2 linked regions of the Homo sapiens genome follow. The protein of the gene in region 1 purifies or fractionates together with the protein of each later gene. This does not show direct contact. Each region holds a gene or a part of one and is shown in the gene's direction. Other genes may lie near its edges.

What was found. Proteins that work in one complex are often made in the same cells at the same time.
Region 2: the proteins of PPP2R2B (region 1) and MTCL1 purify together in Homo sapiens (affinity purification with mass spectrometry; 4 studies listed by BioGRID and IntAct, with this or other methods). This does not show direct contact.

The regions. Positions count from the first base shown.
Region 1 is NC_000005.10:146,584,652-146,589,680, reverse strand, and holds part of PPP2R2B (serine/threonine-protein phosphatase 2A 55 kDa regulatory subunit B beta isoform), read left to right. Parts: 3' UTR 1-5,029. UniProt on the Homo sapiens protein: The B regulatory subunit might modulate substrate selectivity and catalytic activity, and might also direct the localization of the catalytic enzyme to a particular subcellular compartment.
Region 2 is NC_000018.10:8,781,051-8,786,079, forward strand, and holds part of MTCL1 (microtubule cross-linking factor 1), read left to right. Parts: intron 1-2,479; coding exon 2,480-3,793; intron 3,794-4,885; coding exon 4,886-5,029. UniProt on the Homo sapiens protein: Microtubule-associated factor involved in the late phase of epithelial polarization and microtubule dynamics regulation.

The DNA.
Region 1 (5,029 bases):
CTTTTATTGCCCAGTTTTCTCTGGTGGGTCCAGTGTTTTGTTCCTAGGTGTCTGCTGCGATAAAATGAGGTTGTCTGTAGTATTTAAGGAGAAAAGAGATAAGTTTTTTTTAATTAAGCAATTCCATTTGATTGAAAAAAATCAACAAAAAATAAACACCGTTTACTCTTAGACAAATTCTTCTTGTTTTGTGAAAAACCAGAACTAGTCAGTATCTCCTGCCCCTCCACCATTTTTTTTTCCATTTTCCATTTTCCTTTGAACAATTTCATTTAAGCCAGAGATTTATTGCATGAAGCTGAGAAGAGGATGCAGAATGACAAGGAAAGGGCACATCAACCCTGCTATGCTCTTTTTTTGTAAGCTCCATAGAAACAGCCTGAGAATTTGGCTAGGGAACTTGAATGCTTCAGGGGACAGAAAGAGAGCACTTTCGACACAGTGCTTCCCAGAGTGAGCTTGGCAGGGCCAGGCGGGGCCAAATTCCATCTGCTGCCTTGTTACTCTTGCTTTTTGTGCTCTTAAATGGCTCCATATAATCTTCTACTTACATGTTCCTTGGCTTTTTTCTCTTCAACCTTTTCCAGCTTATTTATTCCATTGACTTCTAAAGGCCGAGTCCTGGGTGCTTATTATCTGGTGTTCTAAATGAAGCAGTAAGTTGGAAGCAGTGCCACCACCCCTGAGTCCCTGAGAAAGGCTGGTCTGTTCTTTTTGGGTGTTTCTCCTAAGCAGCACCCTCCCCTCCTCCTGGTTTTGGTAACCAAAAGTAACAATCCATCAACCTCCATTGTACCTAGAACAAAAATAGCCAATAAAAACGCTGAGTTGTGAAGTCCAATCAGGCACTTCTAACTCACCCCAAGCTCGCCATCTGGAAAAACAGACCAGAAGGCTCTCTTCTACAGAAATGAACTGTGGGGAAATCAAGCAGCTGTGACATGAAGTGAATGAAGTCCACTTGAAGCTGTGGAAGATGGTTCATCCTTTTCCCCAGTTGAGGATCCAGATTTATAACTTCTAGAAAGCCATTTCCAGAAGGTTCTATGTGGCACACCCCTAGGAAAGGCACTAAATGCATGCAAAGGATTTATAAACTTAGGAAAGTAGATGGGTGGAGTCCAGAAAACTGGTTCTGGGTTAATATCTCTACATCTGTCTTGATGACTCATTTCTCCTAACTCCCATTTAGTGCAGGGTAAATGGTTTGAGATGAGAGTTTTTCAATGAAAGGGAAATTTTCTTTCAGTTTACAGATGTATTAGAAGTCCTGACTTTCAAGTGTAATTTGCTTTGGAGGAGGAAAAAATAGTGAAAGAATCATTTTATCTCAATTCTAAGCTACTATCCATTTACTAATAGCTTTTTGGCAAGGAAATAACTGTCACCTTAGGTAAAAACAGTCTTGTTAGATGCAGCCCAATTTCAGGAACATTAAAATGTAAAAAAGTACGTCTCAGAATTGAGGGAGCATGGGAACAAAGACGAGACTTTCTCAGTATTTCTCATTTTTCCTGCAAGGAAAGCCTCGCCTTAGGCATCTCAAGTAAAGTGGCTAAGGTGTAAACTCTCTGGGCAAGATTTCTGTCCTGACTGGGACAGTGTTCTTGGAGGAGACATGAGAGAGTCAGAAACTTCTGCCAGTCATAGAGAGTGATGATTTTGCAGAAGGCCACTGGGTTATTGGCCTACATTTACCACCGACTTCCTTTATGGCCTTTTCTCCACTTCTCCGGACTCAGCTCCTCTGTCTGTACCACGTCGGGGGTTGGGACCAATCATTGTATCTCAAACTTAAGAATCAACTCACATTTGTACTATTACTCATGTAACATTTTTTTAAGTCACCTTTTCTTAAAAGCAAGACTTAGCCTCCTCCAAAGAAATAATATGCATGAAATTTCAACTCTGATATGCTAGGTTTTTCCCTAACATTAATCACATAATTATCAATGTAACAAACATGCACCCACATACCACCTGAAATCATTTTGTGAACCACCAGGAGCATGTGTATCAAACTTTGGGACCCTGAGTAACTGATATGACAGAAGATTTATGCCCTTAGGGGCATCAAAGATGGTGGTTCTTCACATATTAGAGTCAGCAGGGCTGCCCATAACACACACAGGAATAATTTTTGTCATGGTTTAAGGAGTTCATAGGCCCCTTTGCAGTTTATCTGCGAACTCCAAATAAAAGCCCCTACACTAGTCCAACACCCTTAGCATATAGATGTACAAACTGGGATCCAGAGTAGGATGAGTTTGCCAGAGAAGAAAGAGCAGAGGGCAGCCATCCTCTCCTCCATCCCCTGCAAAGGATGCATTAGAGCAAACACCCAAGACTCCTGGACGGGAACAGGAGGGGAAAGCCCTAGAGATTAGGCCTCAGGGAGCAATAACCACCACGATGTTTCACAAATTAACTGTTCTTTACCAGGTACTGAACTAGGTATTTTACATGTGTGATCTTTCAGCCCCAGTACTGGCAATATTTCTTAGTTAGTGGCACATAGAAGTCAGTCTGTTTTCCTGCTGACACTAAAAACTACTTGAAGGCTGATTTGCTACCTTGCAACAGTTGGTTCGATTCTAAGGGCCCTATACTACTTTACCCCACAAGGCCTGCTGCTTGGTAAGAGCCATCAGATTACAACTGGAGGGTGTCAGTTGAATGAAGGAAAATGGAAGCCACGCCATCCCTGGCTTTTACAAAAACCATCCTTGCGCAACATTCAGTTCCTGACGTTAAAAACAAGTAATGCAAAAAGCTGAACTTTGGTAGACATTCGTACTCTTCTGTCAGGAGGAGGAAGATTAGTTAGAAAAAACAAAAAAGGAAGATACTAGCCAGCATCAAGAAGTGGGATATATAAAGGCAGATGGGCAGTGGGAATCAAGTTGCTTCTTAACTCCTTCAAGTTTGGCTCCTGCCTTTACTCTTCCATTGAAAAAAAAGCACCTTTAAACCTCTCATTGATCTTGTAATTAATTCAACCAAATCAACTTCTATTAGGCAACCAGCATATATAAGATGGAACAATTGCAAGGTGGAATAAAGATGAAGCTAAAATTCTGCTAGCTCAGTGGCCCAATGAAATAAGTCAGCTATCTCCACTAAACTTCCTTTGAATATTCTAGGGTCCATTATAATAAAAGGTACACACTCAAATGCCCAATTTCTAAGGACTTGAAAAGCCATAATTTCCCTCCCTTCAAGCCTACAGAGCAACTGCCTAAAGCTTCCCTCCCCAGACAACCCCAGGCCTCATTTCTTTTTCAGTCCCTTTGCTAGCTGCCTGCAGGGCTCAAGAAAGCCCTGGTAGGCCTCATAATGAGGATTTAGGGATGACACTATAGTCCACAGCCTGAATGGTGGAACCCTTACTAATTTTCCCTCTTCCGTGATGAATGTGTGGATGAAGCCGGTGTGTTTTTAATAATGCCACCCCACTTCCAAAACAAATCCCCTGACACAGTCTTTGGACATACCACCCTGAATGCACCCGATCTCATCTGATCTTGGAAGTGAAATGGAGTCAGGCCTGGTTAGTCTTTGGATGGGGGAAGTCTAGACACACCACTGAGAAACATTCACACTGCAACCTGATTCACTGTGCATCCAACATGCCTTCATCCACCTCTTCCCCCTGAACTTCTAAGTCAACTCTCAGGGACTGCTTTCCAAGGGAGCAACCAACCTGGTCAGTGGAAAAAGGATGAGACTGGGAGACAGGAAACGTGGGTCCTGCTCCTGGTAACCATGGAACTTAAGCTACCCACTCAGTCCCTATGTCAGTGTCATCACCTGTAAAATGGCCAGAAAGACATCTATCCTAGCTCAGAGAATTGTTATTGGGAGAACAAGAAATCCATTTACTTACAACTATTTTGATAGGTTTAAAGCACCATAAACTAATAATAGCAACAACAGTGATGGGTAATATACTATTGCTTTCCATGCCTCATCTCATTATCTCCTCTCCCAGACCCCATGGTGGCATTAGTATTTCCATTTTGCAAATGAGAAAATAGACTCAAGTTGTCAACCTAGCCAAGGGCACAAAGCCCGAGAGAGATGGAACCAGGACTCCAACTCAAGGTATCTGACTCTAAAGCCAGAGCTGTTAAAATACAGCTCTAACATACAATAGTTGCTAACATTTATTGAGCACTTATTATAAGCCAGGCTTTGTTCTACAAATTTCACATGTATTGACTTATTTACCCCTAAAACTCCAGATGCAGATACTATTGTTGTTCTCATTTTATAGATACAGAAACAGATGAATGACAACCAAATTTACACAGTTCACAAGTGACAAAGCCAGGCAGTTTTAGTTAAAGTTCTTATCCACTATCCCCATCATACATTATGTGTGTGTGTGTGTGTGTGTGTGTGTGTGTGTGTGTGTGTGTATGCATGTAGATGGAAGTTACTGATCAGAAAACAAGCCCCAGTAATGACCCATAAGCTCAATGAATTAAAGATTCATTGGTTGCCTGGGATGTGTCAGGCAGCCAGGTTCTAGACAAGGGGCTGGAGTTACTAAGATATTTAAACCACTGGCCCCTGCCCTCCAAGAGATGACACTCACATAGGAGAAAGTGCATATTTGCATACTGTAAACATTTTTACAATGAGATATCTATGAAGGGCAGAAGTCATACAGAGGAAGAAATAGTTAATCAATGAGTGATAAGAAAAGGTTCTCAGAATGTGTCATCTAAGCAGAATTTTAACTAAATTTGCTCAACAAAGCATGATACAGCGTTTCCAATAGGTAGACCAACATATACCAGAATATGAAGCAAAATCCATATGGCATGGAAACAGAAAGCCAATGTTTCTCTCCTTCCATTAGAAACACATTTTCGACATACTAGAACTAGCCTACCCCTTTTTCCTTTTGTTCATCCAATAACAAATATTTATTAAACCTTATTTTAAGCACTGTATTTAAGTGTAAAGTAGACGGAAAGAATAAAAGGAAACCAATATTTCCTGAGTAGTTATTGCAATGACA
Region 2 (5,029 bases), on another chromosome or scaffold:
CAGCTACTCGGGAGGCAGAGGCAGGGGGCAGGAGAATTGCTTGAACCTAGGAGGCAGCGGTTACAGTGAGCCAAGATTGCGCCATTGCAGTCCAGCCAGAGTGCAGACTCCAGAGCAAGACTCCATCTCAAAAAAAAAAAAAAAAAAAAAAAAAAGAATGAATGAACAGATAAACGAGCATGCTTTTCCTCTAGTATTAGTATTAAACACAACGTATGCCTTTTACAGCCCATGTATTCTGTGTAGGTTCTTTCAAAAAATACGTCATTACCCCAGCAGCGATGATAGCATAGCCCATTTGCCTCAGTAGTTGTGAGTAGGGCAGACAGCCTTACTTCAAGTTAGTCACAGGATTGCTTTTTATGTCTACCTAACCCAAACCCAACCAAATCCTTCATGTGATAAGTTCTCAGAACTCAAAGACCATGTGACATTTATATGTTATTCTCCTAACGTGCAAAGAAGGAAAAAGACTCTTTACCGGCTCCTTTACCCAATACTAATTGTGTTTCAGACAAATAAGAAAATTAATTTCAGGGAGCTAGAGCATGGTGATTTATCATACACAAACCAGTTTATATATAATAAATACACTTTTTAGGTTTATGATTTATCATATACAGACCATTATTTCATTTGACCCTCACAACGACGTTGTGGTTAAGTGAGCATTCCTGCTTTAGATACAAAGAGACAGGTTCACCGGGGCTCTGTGATGAGCCCAGGTCCCTTAGACAGTAGGAGGGGCAAAGCTAGGACTCCGGGCAGCATGTTTGACCCCAAGTCCAGCAGGCCTGGTTTTGTCCTCAGCTAAGAGATGACAGTGGGCGTGTCATCCTCCCGAGGACGCACAGATAGCGCCAGGGCAAGCTTTCCCTGTGGCAGTGGCTGCACACTTGGTCGTAGGTGTTGGGCTGAGCCTTCCTGGTCATATCGTTTTCCCCCTTTCCATGGGGTTTGTGGTGAGCAAGGAGGGACCAGGTAGAGTGGAAGGAGGAAAGTTGGGAGGCGCCGAGGGAGGCATTTCTCTTTCTGCCAAATGATGAGTGTGCGACCAGACTGCGGCAGAGAACGAGCCATGCTCTCTGAGTGTAAAAGCTGCATTGTGAGCACACGTGACGATCCGAAGGAGTTAATTCTCCCCCGGGGGCTGACTTGTTCCACAGAAGGGGCGACAGGCCTGGAGAGCAGTTTGAAGCCTTTTCCTCCACGAGGGCTGTGGGATTTGACTCCCGCAGTGCTGTTGTTGACAGTTTCTCTGTGTGATGGGGGAAACCTTTGCTGAAGCCTTTTGAAACTTTTGATGGCCGATCAAAGAGGAGTGATTCGTGAAATCGGTTATTTTTCCCATCTGCTGAATGTGAACAGTAAAACGTTTTTGCAAAACCAAAACGGGGAGTTCATCTGGCTTCAAAACAAGGAGACCAGCCCTGCAAAGCAGCGTTGACTTTCCACTGGACCCAAAAAGTGCCGTTTTGACCTCAGCCAAGCATTGCAGGCTGTGAACAGCAGAGTCAGCTTTTGAGGATCCTCCAGAACCCTCTGGAAGCCCTATGAGGACACTTCTTAGGTTTTGATACACTTGACTCTATCCAACACTTACCTCCTTGCCTTGGGTCTCTGGGTTTAATTTCCTGCTGTGTTATAGCAACTAAAGGGAAAGGAACGTAAGTAAAGGCTCTGAAGTTGCACTTGCATGGCAAGAGGCTGCAAGGAGCTCAGGTGTCTGGGTCTGCAGTACCCAGTGTGTACCCAGAGCTCGGTACTGACTCAGTACGTGCCTGGACTTCCAAACACCTTCATGCTCATACCTCATGTTTTTGTCATGTCATTCTTGTGGGACATTAGGGCTGGGGAGACCGGGATGGGGAGAAGCGAATTGCCCTGTCTCAGGTACCTTAGGAAACCAGGGGAAAGCTGAGCTCTCATTTGGGGTGGCCTGACTTCCCCATCCTGGTCAGACCTTGTGGATTGTGGGCCACTTTGAAAGAGGGAGGTCTGCACGTTGGAGGTGGTGAGTGCAGCAGGGTGGAACCCTGTCTGCCTGCACCAGGCCTTGGTGAGGGGTCCTGCTGTCTCTCACTGGTGCTGGTGAGTAACCAGGTGGGATCCAGAGAGCAAGGAGGGGTTGCGCATTCCCGCTGGGTTTTGGGCCTCATTTCGTTTTCCCTTCTTTGCCCATAACTTGTATGATGGTTTCCACGTGCACTTTTTTTTTTCCAAACTAATTTTTTTTTGTTTCTTTTGCTTCTGTGGCAAAGCAACAAACTGTAGGCCTTTCACAGGCCCCCTCCACAAAGCCCCTGGGCCCACCTCTGCTTTGTCTTGGCTGTTTCTCTATGTAACTCAGCGGCACCGATGGGAAGATCGGTGTTTGATGTTTGTGTGCATTGGGGGCGAGGTGTGAGGGGAATCATGAAAAACACGAACATTTGGTATTTTCAAATAACCCTTCTCCCGGGCTGTTCTCTCCTGGCAGGATGACAGTGCCGATTTGAGGTGCCAGCTCCAGTTTGCCAAAGAGGAAGCCTTCCTGATGCGCAAAAAGATGGCCAAGCTAGGAAGGGAGAAGGACGAGCTGGAGCAGGAGCTCCAGAAGTACAAGTCCCTCTATGGGGATGTGGACAGTCCCCTGCCCACGGGGGAAGCAGGCGGGCCCCCCAGCACCCGGGAGGCCGAGCTGAAGCTGCGGCTAAAGCTGGTGGAGGAGGAAGCCAACATCTTGGGCCGGAAGATCGTGGAGCTGGAGGTGGAGAACCGTGGCCTCAAGGCAGAGATGGAGGACATGCGGGGCCAGCAGGAGCGGGAGGGCCCGGGTCGGGACCACGCACCCAGCATTCCTACCTCACCCTTCGGTGACTCCCTGGAGTCCTCCACTGAGCTCCGCCGCCACCTGCAGTTTGTAGAAGAGGAAGCGGAGTTGCTCCGGAGGTCCATCTCCGAGATCGAAGACCACAACCGGCAACTGACCCACGAGCTCAGCAAGTTTAAGTTTGAGCCTCCCCGGGAGCCGGGCTGGCTAGGAGAGGGTGCAAGTCCTGGTGCCGGGGGTGGGGCCCCCCTGCAGGAGGAGCTGAAGTCAGCCAGGCTGCAGATCAGCGAGCTCAGCGGCAAGGTGCTCAAACTGCAGCACGAGAACCACGCGCTGCTGTCCAACATCCAGCGCTGCGACCTGGCAGCCCACCTGGGGCTGCGTGCCCCCAGTCCCCGGGACAGCGATGCCGAGAGTGATGCGGGCAAGAAGGAGAGTGATGGGGAGGAGAGCCGCCTGCCCCAGCCCAAGCGGGAAGGGCCTGTTGGCGGGGAGAGTGACTCGGAGGAAATGTTTGAGAAGACGTCGGGCTTCGGGAGCGGGAAGCCATCGGAGGCCAGCGAGCCATGCCCCACGGAGCTCCTGAAGGCCCGGGAGGACTCTGAGTACCTAGTGACCCTAAAACACGAGGCCCAGCGGCTAGAGCGGACGGTGGAGCGCCTCATCACGGACACCGACAGCTTCCTCCATGATGCGGGGCTGCGGGGTGGTGCGCCCTTACCGGGGCCTGGCCTCCAGGGCGAAGAGGAGCAGGGTGAGGGGGACCAGCAGGAGCCCCAGCTGCTGGGGACCATCAACGCCAAGATGAAGGCTTTCAAGAAAGAGCTGCAGGCCTTCCTGGAGCAGGTGAACCGCATTGGGGATGGCCTATCCCCCTTGCCCCACCTCACAGAGTCCTCTAGCTTCCTCTCCACTGTGACTTCCGTGTCCCGGGACTCCCCCATCGGGAACCTGGGGAAGGAGCTGGGCCCAGACTTGCAGGTAAGGGGGCTCGTGGCTTCGCCTCCCTGCTCCGCCTTGCTCTTCCTCCTTCTCGCTGGCATTGCTGCACTCGGGCTCACGCTGCTCACGGCTGCTTGGTTATGATTTCAAACCTGCATTGTACTAAAGCCTCCGGGGCAACCGGATCCTCTCTCTTGGTTGGGCTCCGTTTTTTTTGTTTTTTTTTTTTTTAAGTTCTCTTGTATTGCCTTGTTTCTTTTTCCTTTCTCCTGTCTTATTTTTAACTGCGCCGCGGCTCATGGTTTAGAGGCCCTCCCAGACACGAGGCTGAGCCCAGTGGAAGCGATAGGGCTCGACGCATGCCGGCCTTGCTCCTCTCTTGGTATCTCAACCAACCAGCCACCCGCTGAAGAAGCCGTGAGGAGGCTAAGACAAACGCATGTCACAGTCAGGATAATTAGCAGACTCGCTAACGAGCACGTCCCTTCCTGGGTGTGTTTCAAGGGACACAGTGCAGTCCAAGGCCCTAGGCAGCCCAGGCCCCCACTCCCACTGGAGGATCAGCCAAAGCGGGCGAGGAGCACGGTGCTGAGAAGGATGGTTTTGGTGGAAAAGCTCTGCTGGCTCCTGCCGCCCTGCCGCCGCTGGGGAGGGCGCGGAGGGTCTCCGAGGACTGCTGTCCTAGCCTCGCCTGGGTGCATGGCCCAGCTGCCGCCCTGGACTGTGGCTTTGGCTGCTCGACCCACAAGTAAGGAAGGAAGAGCCTCGTTTTCCGTTTCCTTCACGGGTAGCGTGCTTGCGGTTGAGTTCTGGATTCACGCATCGCCATCGCATGTGCCCCGTAACCAGTGTTTTGCACCCCCACTTTCTCTTTTTGCTTTTCAGATGTGTCCACCCGCCCCTTTGCTCATCCTCATCTTGGGTCTGTTTTCTTCACTTTCTTACACCACTGTCTTTAAGCCTGTGTTTCTGTTCGTGCTGTTCTTTGGTCGTTTTCTCAGTCGTCTCCCTTGTCCATTTTTGTTTTCTTTATCCCCCCTCCCTGCCTCCACCCTTGTCCTTTGTTTGTTTGTTTTTTTGTTTAAAATTTTAAAGAACAACAACAACAAATTCCTCCCGTGCACCTAACAGTCCAGACTGAAAGAGCAGCTGGAGTGGCAGCTCGGGCCGGCCCGAGGGGACGAGCGGGAGAGCCTGCGCCTCCGAGCCGCGCGGGAGCTGCACCGCCGCGCAGACGGGGACACCGGGAGCCACGGGCTGGGAGGCCAGACCTGC